2 separate regions of the Homo sapiens genome follow, and region 2 is linked to region 1. The links come from fine-mapping of genetic effects on gene expression. Tissue or cell type: aorta. Region 1 holds a variant in brackets; the other region holds the start of a gene. All regions are shown on one strand. Distances are from middle to middle.

Region 1 (2,615 bases):
CGTAATGAACTTCAGTTTCATCTATGTTGTGGCAAGTGACTGAATCTTGTTCTTTTTTTACGGATGAGTAGTACTCCATGGTGTGTAAGTACCACATTCTCTTTGTCCATTCACCTATTGATGGACACTTAGGTTGCTTCCAAAGCTTGGCTGTTGTGAACAGAGCTGCAATAAACATAGGAGTACAGATGTCTCCTCGATATATTGATTTTTTTTTTATCTTTGGTGGGATCCAGCAGTGGGATTGCTGGATCATATGGTACCTCTATTTTTAGTTTTTTGAGGAACCTCTAACCTGTTCTCCGTAGTGGTTGTACTAATTTACATTCCCACCAACAGCGTCTGAGGGTTTCCTTTTCTCCACACGTTTGCCAGCATTTGTTATTGCTTGCCTTTTGGATATAAGCCATTTTAATAACGAGGGTGAAATGATATCTCATTGTAGTTTTGATTTGCATTTCTCTGATGATCAGTGATGTTGAGCACATTTTCATAGACCTGTTTGCCATTTGTGTGTCTTCTTTTGAAAAATGTCTATTCAAATCTTTTGCCCATTTTTTTTCATTTTTTCTTTTTTTTTTTTTTTGGAGACAGAGTCTTGCTCTGTTGCCCAGGCTGGAGTGCAGTGGCTCAATCTTGGCTTACTGCAACCTCCACCTCCTGGGTTTAAGTGATTCTCCTGCCTCAGCCTCTCGAGTAGCTGGGATTACAGGTGCATGCCACCACGCCCTGCTATTTTGTATTTTTAGTAGAGACAGGGTTTTGCCATGTTGGCCAGGCTGGTCTCAAACTCCTGACCTCAAGAGATCCACCTGCCTTGGCCTCCCAAAGTGCTGGGATTAGAGGCATGAGCCACCACACCCAGCCCTTTTGCCCATTTTTTAATTGGATGATTACATTTTTTCCTATAGAGTTGTTTGAGCTACTTACATATTCTGATTATTAATCTTTTGTTAGATAGGTAGTTTGAAAATATTTTCTTCCATTCTGTGGATTGTCTCTTCACTTTGTTGATTGTTTCCTTTTGCTGTGCAGAAGCTTTTTAACTTGATGTGGTCTTGTTTGTCC[A/G]TTCTTGATTTGGTTGTCTGTGCTTATAAGGGTATTTCTCAAGAAATCTTTGCCCATACCAATGTACTGGAGAATTTTCCCAAATGTTTTCTTGGAGCAGTTTCACAGTTTGAGGTCTTAGATTTAAGCCTTCAATCCATTTTGATTTGACTTTTGTATATGATGAGAGATAGGGGCCTCATTTCATTCTTCTGCATATGGATATCCAGTTTTCCCAGCACCATTTATTGGAGATTCTGTTGTTTCCCCAGTGTGTGTTCTTGACATCTTTGTTGAAAATGAGTTCACTGTAAGTGAGTGGATTTGTTTTTGGATTCTCTATTCTGTTCTATTGATCTATGTGTCTGTTTTTATCCCAATACCACTCTGTTTGGGTTACTATAGCTCTGTAGTATATTTTGAAGTCAAGTAATATGATTCTCCAATTTTGTTCTTTTTGCTTAGGATGGCTTTGGCTATTCTGGGTCTTTTATGGTTCCATATTATCTGAAGACTGTCTTTGATATTTTGATAGGGATCACATTGAATCTTTAGATTGCTTTGGGTAGCATGGACATTTTAACAGTATCGAACCTTCCAATCATGAACATGGAATATCTTTCCATTTTTGGTGTCCTCTTCAATTTCTTTCATAACTGTCTTATAGTTTTTATTGTAGAAAATTTCCACTTCTTTGATTAATTCCTAGGTATTTATTTTATCTGTGGCTACTATAAATGAAACTACTTTTTAAATTTCTTTTTCAGTTTGTTCATTGTTGGCATATAGAAATGCTACTGATTTTTGTATGTTGATTTTCTATTCTGCAACATTACTGAATTCGTTTATCAGTTCTAATAGTTTTCTTGTAGCGTCTTCAGGTTTGTCCAACTAAGATCATATCATCTGCAGACAGGGATAATTTGATGACTTTTTTTCTAGTTTGGAATCCCTTTATATCTTTCTCTTGTCTGATTGCTGTAGCTAGGACTTCTAATACTATATTGAATAACAGTGGTGAAAATGGGCATCCTTGTCATGTTCTAGATTTTAGAGGAAAGGCTTTCAGTTTTTCCCCATTTGGTATGATATTAGCTGTGGGTCTGTCATATATGGCTTTTATTATGTTAAGGTATGCTCTTTCTCTACCAATTTTTAAGGGTTTTTATCATGAAGGGATGTCACATTTTGTCAAATGCTTTTTTACATCAATTAAAATGATCATATAGATTTTATTTTCATTGTGTTGATATGATGTATCACATTCATTGATTTACATATATTGAAGCATCCTTGCAACCCTGGGATAACTCCCACTTGGTCATAATGAATGATCTTTTAAATTTGTTGTTGAATTCTGCTTGCTAGTATTTTGTTGAGGATTTTTTTTTTTGCATCAATATTCATAAGAGATACTGGCCTGTAGTTTTCTTTTTTTGATGTGTCTTTGTCTGGTTTTGGTATCAGGGTAATACTGGCCTCATAGAATGAGTTTGTAAGTATTCCCTCCTCCTCTATTTTTTGGAGTAGTTTGAGTAAGATTAGTATTAGTTCTTCTTTAAGTTTTT
Region 2 (2,615 bases), 350 kb after region 1:
AGGATTACAGGCGTGAGCCACCGCGCCTGGCCCGGTAGAAATTATTTACATGATTGTCATCACTGTATATCTTACATATGCAATATACAGCAGAGAGACAATTTCTGGTCCTTCAGTTTCGGAGAAGGAAAAGCAAAGCAGTGGTTATGCTGTGATGTTCATCCTGGTGGTGATGGGGGTGGGGTGGGGTGGATTTCTTTTTCTAAGGAGGACTGAGGCAGGAAAATAGGGTCTGGAGGCAGGAAACATAAGGCCTATTCACACTTCAGCTGTAACAGGAAATATCCTCTCCATAGGGCGTAGGCCATAAATGACTTTGTAACTTTACTTCATCTTCTCCCTTTACATAGGGCATACCCAAAGTAACCAATGGAATCCTCTAGGGGGTATTTAAACTCCCCAAAATTCTGTAACCGGGCCTTTGAGCCCCTATGCTCGCCCGTTCCCACACTGTGGAGTGTACTTTCATTTTCAATAAACCCCTTCATTCCTTCCTTGCTTTGTTTGTGCGTTTTCTTCAATTCTTTCTTCAAGATGCCAAGAACCTGGACACCTTCTACCAGTAACAGGATGACAGGCAAGAGTCTTATCAAGATGCTCATGAACCAAAGTATACCTCTGACGTCTTGATTCTTGGAGTCCAAGCCTAGACTGCTTTGGTAAGCAGCAAAGGAAGAAAACGCAAGATAGTTTCCTGAACAATCTCCTGATGCAACTGTTTACAGGTTTCATGTCAGCACCCAAGGGGAGCTTATGGCCAGAGACTCCCACAGTCTCTGTGTGTTCCCAGTGCTTGGGCTCAAGGGAGGCGCGCTGCGGGCTGAAGGCTCAGGTCAGAACCGCAGGGGCTTGGGCGGAGGCGGACTCCGGTCGAAGGCTGTGGGGTGAGAACTCTCGCCCCCTCTACTCGGCCGCCGCCGGGTGGCACGCCCACGCCGCGCCTTCCGGTTGGTCCTTGAGGCGACGGGTGAGGCACAGCTGAGCGCCAAAGCCACAGGCTGGGGCGCTAACGCCCCCGCTCAGCGCTCTGCGCTCCAGACAGCTGCGAGCTGGAGTAGGAAGGTTCAGGCGGTGGCGGAGAGTGCGCTGGAGGCTGGAGGGCCAGGAGGCGGGAAGCTTCCCGCACGGGGGCGCTGTCACCTGCCTGTGGGAGGAGCCAGAGAGGGACCTGGCTCTGCTGCTCTGAAGCACCGGAGTCGGGAGAACCCATCCAGACATGAAGAGCGCCAAAGGTATTGAGAACTTGGCTTTTGTCCCCTCCAGCCCAGACATCCTGCGCCGCTTGTCTGCGTCGCCCTCCCAAATCGAAGTCTCTGCCTTGTCCTCTGACCCCCAAAGAGAGAATTCTCAGCCACAGGAGCTTCAGAAGCCCCAGGAGCCCCAGAAGTCACCAGAGCCATCTCTGCCTTCAGCCCCTCCCAATGTCTCCGAAGAGAAGCTCCGGTCACTGTCGCTGTCCGAGTTTGAGGAGGGGTCTTACGGCTGGAGGAACTTCCATCCTCAATGTCTCCAGCGCTGCAACACACCTGGAGGCTTTCTGCTTCACTACTGCCTCTTGGCCGTCACGCAAGGTAAAGTCCAGCGCCCGCTTGAGGCTCGGGCCAGTGGAGAGCGAGGTGGGCACGGCGAGCCAGCCGGGGGAGAGGGCAGGTGCGCGGGGTCCGTGGGACGGTGGACGCGCCCTGCAAGGTGGCCCCGGGTTTGGAACTTGCTTGCGCTCTCACCAAGGTCAACCTACCGGCCCCCAGCCAGCCTTCCAAAGTTCAGCTTCTCCTTTATCACTACAGTTCAAACTTGCAATACAAGCCTTTTTCTCTTTTGTGTTTTACCTCAGTTTAGCGGATTCAAGACTTACAGGGAAGATTACAAGAACCTTCCTTTGGGAAAGGTATACCCTGGGGAGTTTATTTTACATTATAAAGACAAAAATTTACCTAGGCACTCTTTAAAGGTATTTTACTTTTACATTTGTTTCATTGCCTCAGGGGAAGGAGTAATACGTTTGCAGGTGGGAGTGGGATGCCTTACAAGGAAGAAAGCTATGAAAAATCTATCGTATAAATTAGATACAGACATTCATGTTTTGTGAGTGTATTTAGTTTGAGAGTATGTGGTCACCAGAGGAGCCCAGTGAGTAAATTAGCAAAGGCTCCCGACGTTGTTGAGCCTTAATCTTCATTGTGTTACATTAGTTATCCAGCATCTGTTTTGTTCTAGGATCTCTTTTAGGTTCTCTTGGGAGTTACAGATTCAGTTCAGATTTATACCCTCAGGGGCTTGCAATCTAAGCTCAGTTTGGAGGAGTGATATCCTGGAGGGAGAACAGCTCCCTTGAAAGAAGGCACAGGGAAGGTTAAAGCTGCTTCTGGTGTGTTCAATACAGAGGTTGAAGGAAAATAGGAAGTTAACCTGAGTTGACTTTGAGGAAGGGTGGAGAAGAGGTGGAGAGGAGTCAAGAAGGACATGCCGAAGCTTAGCTGAATTGGAATGTAGATATTTTTTGGTCACTTGAGTCATAGTCCGAGAATATTTTCTGTATAATCAGTCAAGGATTAATTGGAAGAAATACAACCTTAGAAATATAGATTTTAGAGGGTTGGAAACAGCTCATTTTT

Alleles and levels. Positions count from the first base shown, and alleles are read on the strand shown. Sizes are in standard deviations (SD) of each study's normalised expression.
For the expression in aorta of the gene that starts at base 1,195 in region 2, allele A in region 1 goes with a lower level than allele G (moderate effect, 0.56 SD a copy in GTEx).

Evidence for each region. PIP is the estimated chance that this variant, and not a neighbour inherited with it, causes the effect.
Region 2: SLCO4C1 starts here. The variant in region 1 is fine-mapped to the expression of SLCO4C1 in aorta (GTEx, PIP above 0.99).

The regions. Positions count from the first base shown.
Region 1 is chr5:102,645,658-102,648,272 of GRCh38, reverse strand. The region is part of intron 1 of LINC00491 (long intergenic non-protein coding RNA 491); the gene reads left to right. Among named protein-coding and RNA genes, the nearest start is that of LINC00491, 24 kb to the left of the region's middle. The variant A/G (reference allele first, on the strand shown) is at 1,069.
Region 2 is chr5:102,294,864-102,297,478 of GRCh38, reverse strand. It overlaps SLCO4C1 (solute carrier organic anion transporter family member 4C1), which reads left to right and starts at 1,195. Exons shown (of 13, transcript NM_180991.5): 1 at 1,195-1,571. The coding sequence starts at 1,217. RefSeq lists an enhancer at 1,230-1,429.